2 separate regions of the Homo sapiens genome follow, and region 2 is linked to region 1. The links come from fine-mapping of genetic effects on gene expression. Tissue or cell type: whole blood. Region 1 holds a variant in brackets; the other region holds the start of a gene. All regions are shown on one strand. Distances are from middle to middle.

Evidence for each region. PIP is the estimated chance that this variant, and not a neighbour inherited with it, causes the effect.
Region 2: DENND5A starts here. The variant in region 1 is fine-mapped to the expression of DENND5A in whole blood (TOPMed, PIP 0.91).

What each region holds. Positions count from the first base shown.
Region 1 is chr11:9,309,999-9,318,179 of GRCh38, forward strand. It overlaps TMEM41B (transmembrane protein 41B), which reads right to left and starts at 4,595. Exons shown (of 7, transcript NM_015012.4): 1 at 4,323-4,595. The coding sequence starts at 4,443. It also overlaps the pseudogene PRR13P2. RefSeq lists enhancers at 3,786-4,303, 4,304-4,819 and a silencer at 4,585-4,934. The variant G/A (reference allele first, on the strand shown) is at 4,905.
Region 2 is chr11:9,262,021-9,270,201 of GRCh38, forward strand. DENND5A (DENN domain containing 5A) reads right to left here and starts at 3,330. Exons shown (of 23, transcript NM_015213.4): 1 at 2,941-3,330. The coding sequence starts at 3,049. RefSeq lists enhancers at 1,862-2,201, 2,362-2,481, 3,562-3,631 and silencers at 2,772-3,131, 3,182-3,281.

The DNA of each region.
Region 1 (8,181 bases):
AATCTTTTTTGATTGTGTTCCAAGTAATGTATTATTATTATTATTATTTTTTTTTGAGATGGAGTCTCACTCTATCACCCAGACTGGAGTGCAGTGGCGCTATCTTGGCTCACTGCAAACTCCACCTCCTGGGTTCAAGTGATTCTCCTGCCTCAGCCTCCCAAGTAGCTGGGATTACAGGTGTGCACCACCATGCCCAGCTAATTTTTGTATTTTTAGTAGAGACAGGGCTTCTTCATGTTAGTCAGGCTGGTCTTGAACTCCTGACCTCATGTTCCGCCCGCCTCGGCCTCCCAAAGTGCTGGGATTACAGGCATGAGCCACCATGTCAGCCTAAGTAATGTACATGACCCGGTATACACAAAATCTATATAACTCAAGGAAAGATTAAACAAAAAAAAACCAGCATTTAATCCCAAAGCACTGATATTTTCTCTTCTATTCCATTTTTTTTAAAAAAATGCTTATTATTGATTATCCATCAAATTGATTTCACACCCCTCACAAGGGTCATGACTTATATATTGAAAAACATAGTCCAGCTCTCTTAAGTTAAAATGGAGAACTTGCTAGTAAATACATAGGTCGGGGCAAACACCACCAAAAAAGTTATGTACTCTAGTCCAGTCACCTTCAAACCGATTAGGTTAAGAGCCCTTTTTTTTTTTTTTTTTTTTTTTTAACCAGGAGAAATAACTTTATTTGGACTGAGAGCTGGAGAACAAGAATAGGACCTGAGATAGCATACTGGGCTAAGGAGGAGAGGTAAGGTTCCAAAATGGCAGTCAAAGCTCATCGACCAAACAGACTCTACTTCCCAGCAACCTTGCAGTTAGTGCAACCAACAAAAGGCCTGCTGGGGAATGTATTTTCCACTAAATTCCCCAAGTATGCCAACATTACAAAAAAGATAGAGGTTTTTCATCATAATTAAATTTCCACAATCCTCCCCAATCATGAGTATTATAAGCAGAAGTAAAAAATCACATTTTACAGATCTCAAACTTGTCTTCAACATTTAGTTCATCATCTTCAAAAAACAGCTCCCCTGCTAAACTCATTAGCTATATGATCTATCCAAGCAACAACAAGATGGCCAGGCCATGCCAATTCTCTTCCCATTTTCCCTAGCCACTCAGGGCTCAACAGCAGGGTGAAGCTCAGGCGGGGGTAGGGTGTGGGGAGCACAAGGGCTACTTTCCCCCAATACAACATGGCATCTGAAGCTTGATAGGAGAGCAGAACTGGTGAGACTTGAGGGAAGGACCCAGGGCCTGTATTCAGTCAGAATCACTGCTGGAAGAGGAGGAGGAATGCTTGCTATGCTTGTGCATCTTTTTATGAGCTTTCTTCATTTTCTTCTGTATCTTCTTGCCCACTATCACTGCTGGTCCAACCATGCCAGGAGCCAAGGGACTCACAGGAGGCATTCCAGGAGCAGACGGTGGGTATGGAGGAGGGTAGGGACCCGAGGATTGGCATCCTGGATACCCTGGCTGTGGCACAGGATGAGGGGGCCAACCTGGGGGGAAAGCTGAATTGCCTTGCGGAGCTCCTGGGGGAGGAGGACAGGGGCCTGGGGGAAAGGGTGGGTTGATAGGTGGTGAGTGGGCAGGATTGGAACCTCCAGGGCACCCAATGTTGGGTGGATATGGATTTGGCCCTGGCTGCCTGGCACTGGGATTCCACATGTTTAGGTGTGTCCTCCAGCCTTTCCACTGCTGCCTGGGCTTGATGCATTCTCAAGAGCTTCTTAACTAGTTTCACCTCCTGTCTGCTCTCTCATCTTCATCATGCAAAAATTAGACTTTCCGTGTTACCTCTGCCTTACTCAAGTAGTCAAAGTGGTCCACAGTCTACTAGGCTTAGCTCTGAGACTAGAGGCCAGAGTAATGGCAAGGAATCCACTAAATGTACCAAACATTGCAGATAGCATGTAAAACAGTTCAAACATACATATGATGATAACTACTTATTTGTCAAAGTTATATATGTGTCACTTAATAGAATACAAATTCATTTCCAAGTATCATGGAATTTACAGGAACATTCTGACACATCCTGAACAGGCCAACCTCATCGCCTACTACCACCCAACAGAAACCCTCTGCTCCTGACAAATTAATCTCCCTACCCACACACATAAAAGTTTCACACTAACCTTCAACCCTACTACTCTCTTTCTCCTAGCCTGGAATACCCTTCCCTTCTCTTTACTTATCCAAACCTTACTTATCTGGCAAAGCACAATGGCTCATGCCTGTAATTCCAGCATTTGGGGAGGCCAAGGCAGGAAGACGCTTGAGCCCAGGACTTCAAGACACCCTGGCCCCTTCTCTACAAAAAACAAATAATTAGCTGAGCATGGTGGCACACACCTGTAGTCAGCTATTTGAGGGGGCTGAGGTGGGAAGATCGCATGAGCCCAGGTAGCTGAGGCTGCAGCAAGCTATGATCATGCCACTGCACTCCAGCATAGGTGACACAGCGAGGCCTTGTCTCAAGTCACTAAAAACAGGCCTTACTTCATCATGAAGTGAAGGCACGCCTTCACATCTCTTCCCTGTCTTCCTATAGATTTGTGATCTATAGATGTCATGGGACAGCATCATAAGAATAATTGTAGGCCAGGCGTGGTGGCTCACGCCTGTAATCCCAGCACTTTGGGAGGCCGAGGCGGGCGGATCAACAGGTCAGGAGATCGAGACCATCCTGGCTAACAAGGTGAAACCCCATCTCTACTAAAAATACAAAAATTAGCCCGGCGTGGTGGTGGGCGCCTGTAGTCCCAGCTACTCGGGAGGCTGAGGCAGGAGAATGGCGTGAACCCAGGAGGCGGAGCTTGCAGTGAGCCAAGATTGCGCCACTGCACTCCAGCCTGGGTGACAGACCGAGACTCCGTCTCAAAAAAAAAAAAAAAAAAAAGAATAATTGTGTTGAATGTTTTGTTGTAATGATAAAATAAGATTAAAAAGTAAGAGCACTTTGGAAGTTTCAAGGTTTTATTTTTTGAATAGCTTTAGGTAAAAATCATGAATACAACTGGCTGCTACCTCAAATGAGATGTCAATTTTTAGGGATGCCCTATCTGGAACACTTTTTCAGGAAACCCAGACCTTGGAATATTGTCACCCTCAGTAGTAGAGTCTTCAAAACAATCTTTCTTTTATTCAGAGCTGATTTATACATTAACAACGATTCATTTCTCAGTTTTTGAAATTATATGAAGTCACCTGGATCCAGTGTATATAAGCTGGAAAAATACCCAAAAACATAAGGCTGACAGAGCCAAATTAGACTGTTGGAGACATTTTAAATTATTTGAAAATACATTAACATTTTCTACTACATACTCTTAGAAGTTCTCCTAGCCATCACTGGTGGTGGAACACACCTATGTGAGCTACAGACAAACTTGTTAGGATCACTTTAAGTTTATGAGCTTTAAAATCATTTAAAGAACGATTCCAGGCCAACACGGAATCAAAGTATTTAGTTTCTACGTACAGTTTTTTCCTTAAAACAATATTTAAAGCCGTGAGATTCTGCAATTATAGAGGCAGTAGGAATAAAGAGAAAACAAAAACCAAAAATAAAGCCGTGAGAAATGTCAGGATGATGTAGTGGGGAAATAAACTTTAGAATGAGTGACCTTAGCTGTAACTAAGTAATTGCTAATATTTATTTAGCCCCCACTTCATATCCAAGCATTGCTCTAAATCTTTTACGTGAATTATTTCGTTTAACCCACGCACCACCTATTAAGTAGATATTATTATTATCCCCATTTCACAGTTCAGACACTGAGCTTTTTTTGAAAGTTACCAAGTCCAAGGTTCCAAGTAAACAGTAGGGCAGGGACTCAAGCCCAGGTGTACTGCCACCTGGAAGTATTAAGTCCTCGCTCCTAACTACTACTTCACTGATCTGGCTTTATGACTTTATAAGTCATATACCCACACTGGGCCTCAGTTTCTTCATCTGTAAAAACAACGCAGCGAATGCCACAGTACAGCTCCTTCCAGCTCTGCCTAGCGTCGTTATCATCAACCTTACAATCTACCTGAGCGTCAACAAGCCAGTGTCATCCCTTCTTTTAAATGAATTCTACTCAAACAGCATTTACAACGCACCTACTCGGCGTCCGGCCTTGTGCTGCGCGAGCGCCCAAGCCCAACTCCCCCACGGTCTCTGCTCCCGCCGCGGCGCCAGCAGGCCCCCCTCTTTCCCCGCGACTCTCCGAGAATAGCGGGGGTCCTTTTCCCCACCCGACACACAGAAGCCTCGGGCCACCCCCAGCTCTGCTCCCCGGGCCCACTCACCCTTCTGGTGGTCTCTGCTGCCAGGCGCCGCGAGACCCCGCGTCCCCGCTGCCCCGTCCCCCACGGGGGTCGTGTGGTGAGCGCCCAACTGCGATCGTTCGGCGACTCTGCCTTTCGCCATGGCTGCTGCAAGGTGAAGGGAGCGGTGCGGTGCCGCGCCCCCTAAACAACAAAACTCTGTTGCAGGCTCCTTACTACGCCGAAGCGCCACGGCTAGAGCCACTTCCGGCGCGACCTCCTCACCCGAGACGACCTCAGCCCAGCGAGTACTGCAACCTCCTGCAAACACCCGCAGCGCCCACCACAGGCTAAACCCCGCCCCGTGCCGCCCCCGAGCCTCGCGTGCTCGCGCCGGCCCAGTAACCGCGAGACAAGTCAGGGTCCTGGACCGCCCCCTTCAGTGCCCCGCCCCGGCCCGCCCGCGGGAAAGAGGTGGCCGCCGGGCGCTGGGGCGAGAGCATGCGCAGTCGCGGCACTCGAGTCACCCGGCTGCGACTCGCTGGCCCTGGCGTCTAAAGCGTAGCCTTAATTACCCGGAAGTGCGGTCCCAGGGACTTCAAACCTTTTGTCCAGGCCGCCGGA[G/A]GTGCCTGTGATTAGTCGGCATTTCGCGGCTGAGGCTGATTCAGCCCATTACATCAATTCCGCAGCTGCTGTCTTCAATTTGGAGGCGCCAGAGAGTGCTTGATCTAAAAGATGGTGGGAAATACAAAGGTTGAGCAAAACCTACCTGAATTTCAGGAAACTAAGGCTCAGAGAGGGCTACGTACAACCTGTGAAGATCACAGGATGGCAAAAATGGGCTTAGAATCCAGGTTGTCCTGTTCCCAAAGCTAACGGTTTTGCATTAGCTGCTGCCCCTTACTACTAAACCCAAGTCAGCTCTACATTTAGCTTATCCCTAAGCTAAGCGGAAACATGCCTTTTCCACAGGTAACTTTTTCTGCTTCTACCCCTCAGAGCACATTCAGCTTACTCACCGTGGTTACCTCTTGAAAGCAACTTAGAGGCCGGTCGCGGTGGCTCAAGCCTGTAATCCCAACACTTTGGGAGGCCAAGGCGGGCGGATCATTTGAGACCAGGAGTGTGAGGCCAGACTGGCCAAAATGGTGAGATGAGACCCCGTCTCTGCTAAAAATACAAAAATGAGCTGGACATGATGGCTTGTAATCCCAGCTACTCGAGAGTGTGAGTCAGGAGAATCGCTTGAACCCCGGAGGCTGAGGTTGCGGTGAGAAATTGCACCGCTGCACTCCAGCATAGACCACAAAGCAAGACTCCGTCCCAAAAAAAAAAAAAAAAAATCCTGATTGTTTCTATTCAGTAATTACATTTGTAGGAAATTATTCCATGAAAATAAACATAAATAATTCCTCTGTATTAGTATAACAGTGAAAAACTAAAAGCAATATAAAAATCCAACACTAAATAAAAATGGTTAAGTAAATTATGGGAAACCCATTCAATTGAACTGTTTTATGTACACATCCTTTGCCTACTTCTGGCTCCCATTTTATTTCCTTCATAGTCATTAAAAGCAATTAATTCTGTGAACTATTTGTTTACTTGTTTATTGTCTGCCTCCACCTTTAGAATATAAGCTTTAAGGCAGGGGCTTTGTCTTTTTGTTTTTTGTTTTTTTAAGTGATGGGAATCTCACTATATTGTCCAGGCTGGATCTGAACTTCTGGACTCAAGGGATCCTCAAGCATCAGCCCTCTGAGTAGCTGGGACTACAGGCTCCATGCTATGGCTCCCAGCTGGGCTTTGTCTTTTTGATCACCATTGTATCCCCGGTAGCTGACAGAGTGCCAATACCTAAGTGGCCATTCAATGAATTTGTTGAATAATTTTTTTTTTTGAGATGGTGCCCAGCCGAATAAATTTTCAATCTTAGGAAATTATATTTATGGGCCAGGTGCCATGGCTTACACCTGTAATTTCAGCACTTTGGGAGACCAAGGTGGGCGGATCACCTTGAGGTCGGGAGTTCAAGTCAAAAAAAAAAAAAAGAAAACATTTTATATATTTTACTATGCAAACATTAAAAATTGAAGTACAACAAAAACTAAAAACAAACACTGAGAAGTATTTGACACATAAGAATTACTACAAATCAGTAAGGAAAGCACAACTCAACAGAAAAATGGGCAAAGAATATGAATTATCAACACACAGAAGAAAAAATTAAATGTGCTTAAGACATCTGAGTGCGCAGTGGGAAAGCCAACTCCAAAACTTAGGAAATTCCAAAAAATTAGGAAAAGATGAACAACCTCAGTGCAGTGTGATAAGAGTGACTGAGGGGTGCGCAGATTGCAATAGCAGAAGAGAGGAATATCTAAATTACAGTGGGGCTGTAAAGTCTCCCAGGAAGCAGGATTAAAACTGATTTTTAGAGGATGAATAGGAATTAACAAAGTTGAAAGCAGAGAAAATAGCTTTTGCAAAGGCTAGAAGCTACTGCTTATATTAGAAAAAAAGCTTCAAGCAAAGGGTGGGAGAATGGAAAGAAATGCTACGAAAGATATGAGACCAGGACCTTATCACAAACTGCTAAAAGTTTGAACTTAATCCTCAAAGATATTTAACCAGAGAGGGACTTAGTAAGATTTGTATTTTTGGCCGGGCACATTGGCTCACCCCTGTAATCCCAGCACTTTGGGAGGCTGAGATGGTTGGATCACCTGAGGTCAGGAGTTCAAGACCAGTTTGAAAACCCGTCTCTACTAAAAGTACAAAAAATTAGCTGGGTGTGGCCGGGTGTGGTGGCTCACGCCTGTAATCCCAGCACTTTGGGAGGCCGAGGTGGGCGGATCACGAGGTGGGGAGATCAAGACCATCCTGGCTAATATGGTGAAACCCCGTCTCTACTAAAAATACAAAGAATTATCCGGGCGTGGTGGCAGGCGCCTGTAATCCCAGCTACTCAGGAGGCTGAGGCAGGAGAATGGTGTGAACCCAGGAGGCAGAGCTTGCACTGAGCCGAGATCGCGACACTGCACTCCAGCCTGGGTGACAGAGCAGGACTCCATCTCAAAAAAAAAAAAAAAAAAAAAAAAAAAAAAAAAAAAGCTGGGCGTGGCAGCGGGCGCCTGTAATCCCAGCTACCCGGGAGGCTGAGGTAGGAGAATCGCTTGAACCAGGGAGGTAGAGGTTCCAGTGAGCTGGGATCGTGCCATTGCACTCCAGCCAGGGCAACAAGTGTGAAACTCCGTCTCAAAAAAAAGATTTGAATTTTCAAAGCTTATTCTGACCGCCTTATGGAAGTGTGCCAAATCAACAGCAGAAAGAGAAGTTAGGAGATTACTGCAATAATCCTGGCCTGACCTAGCATAGTGTACTGGAGACAAAAAGAAGATACCAGATATAAGATTATGTATGAGAAGAACTATCTCTAAACTTTTATTACTTTAATTACATGAATATATACATAGTCATTCCAGACAAAATTTTTTTTTTTTTTGAGATGGAGTTTCACTCTTATTGCCACGCTGGAGTGCAATGGCATGATCTTGGCTCGCGGAAACCTCCGCCTCCCAGTTCAAGCGATTTTCCTGCCTCAGCCTCCCAAGTAGCTGGGATTACAGACATGTGCTACCACGCCCGGCTAATTTTGTATTTTTAGTAGAGGGGGGTTTCTCCATGTTGATCAGGCTGGTCTCGAACTCCCGACCTCAGGTGATCTGCCCACCTCGGCCTCCCAGTGCTGGGATTACAGCCGTGAGCCACCACGCCCCAGCCTCCAGACAAATATTGAAAAAGCAAATTATCAGACAGAAAAACATTAAGTCCAGGCAGGGTGGGTCATGCCTGTGATCCCAGCACTTTCGGAGGCTGAGGAGGGCGGATTGATTGGGCT
Region 2 (8,181 bases), 48 kb before region 1:
ACAAGGATATAATTTTAGCTTGCCAAAAAGCCAGATAATTAACACATATCCATTAAGACAGTAACATTTCTTTTTTAATGAAATGTTGAAAGACAGTTTTTAAACATTTTTGAAGGTCTACTTGATGAGATTATTTTTATTTACATTCTTTTTTTATAGATGAGGACCCTGACAGGGTTATCTCTAACTTGCTCCCAATCACAAAGATAGTCAATAGGAGAGCAGGAATATTACCCTAAACTCATGCTCTCGCTAACAGTTAACTTCCCAGCTTCATTCTTATGCTCTATCATTCGCAAAACATTCTATCTTCTCAAACCAAGTGTTCATACAATTTGACACTCAAAAACACGCATAAAAAAAAGTTTATTCCACCACCTTAGTTTCTTTTACTGAGAAGAATTATGTTGTTTTTAATATTTCTCAACATGTTAGTGTTTTCTAAAGACCTCCAGCCAGGCCAATGAGATGCAGTTTAATGTCATGAGAAGAGCACTGGACCAAGCAATTAACTAGTGTATACAGGCCCCACTGTCCTTCCTGGGCCTCATTTTCCCCTCTGAGGTCCCTTCCAACACCAATACCCTGAACCGAATTCCAAAAATTACATCAAAGTCACAAACTTACTACATATGAAAAAGATGAAAAACATCTGTACTATAAGAATTTGAAGACCTTAAAAGATAAACTTGAACAATTATTAGGTACTCATCAAAATAATTTTTTTTTTTTGGACGGAGTCTCGCTCTGTCGCCCAGGCTAGAGTGCTGGAGTGCAGTGGCGCGATCTGGGCTCACTGCGAGCTCCGCCTCCCGGGTTCACGCCATTCTCCTGCCTCAGCCTCCTGAGTAGCTGGGACTACAGGCGCCCGCCACCACGCCCGGCTAATTTTTTGTATTTTTAGTAGAGACGGGGTTTCACCCTGTAAGCCCGGATGGTCTCGATCTCCTGACTTCGTGATCCGCCCGCCTCAGCCTCCCAAAGTGCTGGGATTACAGGCGTGAGCCACCGCGCCCGGCCTAAAACTAAAATTTTTTTAAAGTAAATTAGAAACCATAAAACTACCCCGACAAAAAGCCTAATATTAATTATATTACTGCTTCATATTTTCTCCACCTGCTATTGAGGAAATAGCTCATTTTTTTCTAACCTTGTTAAAGCATGAATTTATCATGCTTTTTTCTTCTTTTTCTTTTTTCCCAGACAGAGTCTCGCTTTATCACCCAGACTGGAGTGTAGTGGCGCAATCACCCAGACTGGCGCAATCTCAGCTCACTGCAACCTCCCCCTCCTGGGTTAAAGCGATCCTCCTACCTCAGCCTCCTGAGTAGCTGGGATTACAGGCACGCGCCACGACGCCCGGCTAATTTTTGTATTTTTAGTAGAGACGGGGGTTTCACCATGTTGGCCAAATTGGTCTCGAACTCCTGACCTCAGGTGACCCGCCCGCCTCGGCCTCCCAAAGTGCTGGGATTACCCCTGAGCCGCCGGGTGGTGGGCCACCGCGCCCCGCCTAATTTTTTTTTCATAAGAAACACTGGGCCGGGCGCGGTGGCTCACGCCTGTAATCCCAGCACTTTGGGAGGCCGAGGCGGGTGGATCATGAGGTCAGGAGATCGAGACCATCCTGGCTAACAAGGTGAAACCCCGTCTCTACTAAAAATACAAAAAATTAGCCGGGCGCGGTGGCGGGCGCCTGTAGTCCCAGCTACTCGGGAGGCTGAGGCAGGAGAATGGCGTGAACCCGGGAAGCGGAGCTTGCAGTGAGCCGAGATTGCGCCACTGCAGTCCGCAGTCCGGCCTGGGCGACAGAGCGAGACTCCGTCTCAAAAAAAAAAAAAAAAAAAAAAAGAAACACTGGACTTTTTCTGGTGCCCAAAAACAAAACTGTCTTGTCATCGTTGAAGCCGAGTAAGATTAGTCAACAGGATAATCACTTTCGAAAGAGAAACTTTACAGTGACAGAAAAGTGAAAAGGAGTCCCCCTCATCAGGATGACACAACCTTAAAGTACAACCCGACAAACCTCCACCCACTTGAAACCCACTAACTGGAAACTCCAGACAAAAACTTATTTTCAAAACTGTTACAATTCAAAGACTCCAATGACAGTGCAGTGGAAAATTCACGGGGACTGTATAATTTTCACGGCCTTCTGCAGTGAGTGCCAAATCTGGTCAGGGCCCCATCTTTGACTCCCCTCATCACTTTCCCTTTCAAATATGACTTGAAACGCATCAGAACACACCAAGCCTCTCCAACTACAATGCTGCTACCCTTTTATTCACAAACGCCTCTGTCCTCATAAAGGACATAAATTACTTTTCAAAAAAGGCATGGCCCCGGGATACAAGCCCTTTCCAAGGCTAAGGGAGTTCCTACTCTTCTTGGTGCCGCCCAAGTTCACTTTATTACTTCATATCCCATCCAGACGCGCAGAGCTGCAATCTGACTCAGGGGGCCCAGCCCAGGGCTGGGGTATAACGGTTTTGAGGAACTAGTATCACAAGCTTCTTGGGAAGTGGCCAGATAAACTCACCAAGTTTTTGTTTTCCTTTTTTTTAAGTCTGGGTGGAACTTACTTTCACTAGGACGTGGGACGCCTTCCCTCCCTAATGGGTGCCAGAGGACAAGCTTTCCTTTATTTTAAACGAAGTCACTCAACCTACACCAAACTGAGAACACACAACCCTCCCTCTTTCTGGTCGCCGAAGACGTGGCCACTGCGCAGCGGGCCGTAGGTTTGGACCCCTCATGGCTCAGAGCCCCTCATCCGTTTCCCCCCTCCAGTCCAAAGCCCCCTTCGCCCGCGCCCGCCCTGGTCCTCCCGGCCGACACTCGCCCGGCTCCCGGGACAAAGCGGGGCTGAAGGAAGGTTTCTTCTGGGGTCCCCGACGACAGCGGGCGCGGGAAAGCGCCCCGGGCTCGGCGCGCACTCACCCGACAGCTCGTCCGGCTCCAGCCCGGTCTCCGTGTCCAGTCCGCAGATGACAAAGTAGTCGGCGAAGCGACTGGGCGCCGAGCCCCCTCCGCCGCCGCCGCCACTCATGGCGCCGGGGCCGAGACCGGCCGGGCAGTGCGGAGCGGCACCGAGCCCCCGCAACCCGGGCGCCCGCCCGTCCGCCCTCAGGCCGCCCCTCCCGCCGCCGCCGCTACCGCGGCTCGGGCCGCCGCCCCCGGCCCTGGCCCGGTCCCCTCGGCCGCCGCGGCTGCCGTGACGGGGCGGGGGGGCACCGGGCCGCCCCGCACCGCATCCTGGATGCCTTCCCCTCCGCGCCGCCGCCGCTGCAGCTAGCCGAGAGCGCCGCGGCCCGAGCGAGCCTGGAGAAGGGCGGAGAGCGCGTGGACAGCCCCCACCGTGACCCTCCTCCTACCGCGCCTGCGCAGGCGCCGTCTGGGAGGGGGCGGGCTCCTGGGGGAAAGGATGACGTGATGCTCTTCGGACCCCGCCGGCCGCAGCTTCCCGGGAGGTCGCCGCAGCGCAGCCGGTGACTGCTTGGTCGCCCGCAACTGCCACTCCCCCGGGATTGAGACTCCTTTAGGGAGGGCTGAGGAGGTGCGAGAAGAGTGGGCGCAGCCTGCAGAGCCGGGCATTTGGCCCATGCTCTGCCCCCAACCACCCACCCAGCAAGCAGAGGTCCAGAGATCTTAGCGCGGCCTTGCCATGAGGATGGGGTCTCACGACTGAGCTCGGAAGCTCACCTAATCCTAGCTGCAGCGTGTCAGCCTAGACCCCAGACAGGGCCTTCTCCCTGTCCTCTCTTTTGGCAGGGGCGGATGAGCCGGTTTTATATTTACCCTTATTTTACAGACGGGGAAACTGAGTCTCAGAAAGAAGCAAGGACTTATCCAAGGTTACGCTGAGTCTAAGAGACATAAGCCTGGTCTGGAATCCTGGGCTTGTGGTCAGCTCCCCGTTCCTCGCCGCTCCCACCTCCCAGCCTGCCCTTTTCCCACGCTCTCTCCTTTTTTCTCTGGAAGCCTCCAGAGGCGCCTGCCATTTGGGAGCTCCTCTTCCTCTTCACTCTGTGAAAACTCTCAGATCCACCCCTAAACCTGTTTTCCTGTAAGAGGATAGGGAGGAGGCGAAGGGAAACTTACCTATTGGTCCTTGTCCTAGGACCCTCCGATTTCCTTTCCCATAGAAGCTAGGCAGATGTGTCTTTGTTGGAAACTGGAGATCAGAGGCCAGAAAGGCAACACAGGTATAGTGGTCACTAGCATGGGCTCTAGAAAAAAATGCTCGGATTTCAATCCTGACGATCATTTACTTTTGACCTTGAGCAAGTTAATCTCTAAGTGCCTGGCGTCATGGTTTTTGAGACAATTACATAAGGTAAATGCAAGTACAGGTAAAACAATGAGAATACTGCCTGGAACATGGAAATCACTCAGTAAATATTACAGATTTTTTTTTTCAAGACGGAGTTCTGTCTTGTTGCCCAGGCTGGAGTGCAATGGCGTAATCTCGGCTCACTGCACCTCTGCCTCCCAGGTTCAAGTGATTCTCCTGCCTCAGCCACCCAAGTAGCTAGGATTACAGGCGCGCACCACCACACTCGGCTAATTTTTTGTATTCAGTAGAGACAGGGATTCACCGTGTTGGTCAGGCTGGTCTCGAACTCCTGACCTCAGGTGATCCGCCCTCCTCTGCCTCCTAAAGTGCTGGGATTACAGGCATGAGCCAATGAGCCCCCAGCCTGGATTATTATTATTGTTCCAGAAGGAAGTACTCTTACGGTTTGTTCTGGGAGGCTGCCACTAAGAGCTGTAGAAGGCAGCTGGCTTCCCCAAAGGCTGAGCCTAGGCTCTCTCCTAGGTTCTCCTGGGTACTTCTCTCAAATATTGTTTCCCTTGGGGAGGTTTACCTAGAGGTTATAGCCATTGTCTCTCGGAGCCATAGCACCTGTTCCTCCCTGTATCTAACCTGCCTGAACTAGGGGGAGAAAAGTGGGGAGGAGAAGGTTGCTTCAAAACGCCCATTCATGGTGATGCTCCACCCGTATCCTGCATGCTGGGGACACAGAGACAGTAGAGGGGGATTAGTGAGTTAAACAGTCACAGAGGCTGGGCGTGGTGGCTCACACCTGTAATCCCAGAACTTGGGGAGGCCAAGGCTGGCGGATCGCTTAAGGTCAGAAGTTCAAGACCAGCCTGACCAATATGGTGAAATCCCATCTCTACCAAAAATATAAAATTAGCAGGGTGTGGTGGCAGGCAACTTTAGTCCCAGCTCCTCAGGAGGCTGAGGCAGGAGAATCGCTTCAACTCAAGAGGCAGAGGTTGCAGTAAGCCGAGATCGTGCCACTGCACTCTAGCCTGGGCAACAGAATGAGGCTCTACCTCTAAATAAATAAATAAATAAATAAATAAATATGCCAGGCGTGGTGGCTGACACCTGTAATCCCAGCACTTTAGGTGGCCAAGGCAGGCAGATCACGAGGTCAGGAGATCAAGACCATCCTGGCCAACATGGTGAAACCCCATCTGTACTAAAATTATAAAAATTAGCTGGGTATGGTGGTGCCTGTAATCCCAGCTACTCAGGAGGATAAGGCAGGAGAATTGCTTAAACTCGGGAGGTGGAGGTTGCAGTGAGCCAAGATGGCGCCACTGCACTCCAGCCTGGCAACAGAGACACCCTGAAAAAAAAAAAAGAAAAAAAGAAAGTTACAGAGCACAGAAGGAGGACATCTTTCCAGATTGGGGAATGGTCAGGGAAGGTTTCCAGAAGGAGGTATATACTCTGACCTGAGTTCCAGAGGATCAACAGGAAGTTTCTCAGGTAAAAAGGGGCAGGGAAAGATGTTTAACTCAGTATGTGTAACAACAGGGAGCAACAGATAAAAGGGTATGTTCAGGCATCAACAAGTAATTCATTAACATTAAGATGGGAGATGGAGAGTTTAAAGGGAATGAAACCAGGGCAGGGGAGGAAGAAGGAGAACAGAGGAAGGAGGCATGGATTCAAATACCAGGCTAAAGAATTTATCCTCGGCCAGGCGTCGTGGTTCACACTCACGCTGGTAATCCCAACACTTTGGGCAGCTGAGGCAGGAGGACTGCTTGAACCCAGGAGTTTGAGACCAGAGTGGAGAACATAATGTGACCCCTGTCATAAATAAATAAATAAATAGTATTTTTTAGAAATAATTTATCCTATAAGATATATGAGTTGAGGATGAGTGAGGTAAAGTAAAGGAATTCAAGCCAAGGAGTGATATCTGACCCAAATCTGAGAATGATCACTCTAGGGGTGATGTGGAAAAAGAAATTTGAGAAAGGAATAAACGTCCTCAACTGAAAAGTCCAGAAACTTTTTATCCAAGGTGTCCAGGGTGATCTGGTGCTAGACGACCTCTCATATTAACTCAACTCGTAAAACACAAGTTAAAAACGAATGCATAACTGTATTAATTTGCCCTGGGAAATGTAACTGCTCAGAAGCCCAGAATACTCAACTGTGAAGTGATCTCCTTCCCGGTAGGAAATAAGTTTGGCAGAGTGATTGCTTCTTAGAGAGTCAGAAAATATAGAAAGGGATGCTCTTAAGATTTTTTCTTTTTTTTTTTTTTTTTTTTTCTGAGAGAGTCTCGCTCTGTCACCCAGGCTAGAGTGCAGTGGCGCCATCTCGGCTCACTGCAACCTCCGCCTCCCAGGTTCAAACGATTCTCCTGCCTCAGCCTCCCAAGTAGCTGGGACTACAGGCGCGCGCACCATGCCTGGCTAATTTTTTTTTTTTTTTGTATTTTTGTTTGTTTGTTTTTTGAGATGAATTCTCGCTCTGTCGCCCAGGCTGGAGTGCAGTGGTGATCTCTGCTCACTGCAAGGTCCGCCTCCCAGGTTCACACCATTCTCAGCCTCAGCCTCCCGAGTATCAGGGACTACAGGTGCCCGCCACCTGTAGTGGCTAATTTTGTTGTATTTTTAATAGAGACGGGGTTTCGCCCTGTTAGCCAGGATGGTCTCAACCTCTTGACCTCGTGATCTGCCCGCCTCGGCCTCCCAAAGTGCTGAGATTACAGGCGTGAGCCACTGCGCCAAGCCAAGATTTAATGTTTTTTTGTTTGTTTGAGACAGAGCCTCGCTCTGTCACCCAGGCTGGAGAGCAGTGGCACAACCTCAGCTCACTGCAACCTCTGCCTCCCGAGTTCAAGCTATTTTCCTGCCTCAGCCTCCTGAGTAGCTGGAACTACAGGCCTGCGCCACCATGCCGGGCTAATTTTTTTTTTAGTAGAGACGGGGTTTCGCCATGTTGCCCAGGCTGGTCTCGAACTCCTGACCTCAGGTGATCTGCCCACCTTGACTTCCCAAAGTGCTGTGATTACAGGCGTGAAGATTTAATGTTTAAATCCACTCCCACTCTTACTAGCTGTGTAAGCTGGGGTACATCAGTTAAACACTCTGAAATGAGAAGAGTCATTCTGACCCCTCACAGAATTGCACTGAAGATTCATAAATTAATGGAAAAAGGAATTTTTAAAATCTGGGACATAATATACTTTTAATAAGTGGCAATCTGGGACACCCATTTTAGCATGAGGAACATGAGAGAGCAAGTGGACATCTGAGGGAACATAACTCCAGGAGAGGGTGTGCGGCAGAGTGTGCCTGGAGTGTTCATGGAGCAATAAGGAAGCCAGGGTGGCTGGAGAGGGTTAGGGTGGGGAGGATTGGTGGAAGATGGTAGAAGGTGTGGTGGAGTTGGCTTGCAATTCAAAAACATCAATTTTCCCTTCCATAGTGTGTGGACCCGCCTCCTCAGGGACACTGCCCAGCCCTACTTGCATCCAGATGTGGCCATGTGACTAGTTCTCAACAATGGAATGTGTGTAGGACTTTATGTATGTCACTGCTAGGTCAGGGCACTTAAGAAGCAGATTAGACTTCTCCCTTCTTTCTATTTTTGCCTTCTACCAGCTAGAATTAGAAGATTCTGAGGCTCTAAGTAATGGTAAAGCACATGGAGGAAAGGCTCCAGCTGACCAAGAATACCCACACCGGACTGTCCTGTGAACAAAAAATAAACTTCAGTTGTGTGAAGCCACTGGTACTGTGGGGTTTATTTGTTACAACAGCTAGTATTAACCATCACCAAAGTAGATGTTGGGTAAGAGGATAAATCATGGAGAGCCTTGTAGGCACACTGGAAAGATTTTGCCATTGTCTGAATAAAATGAG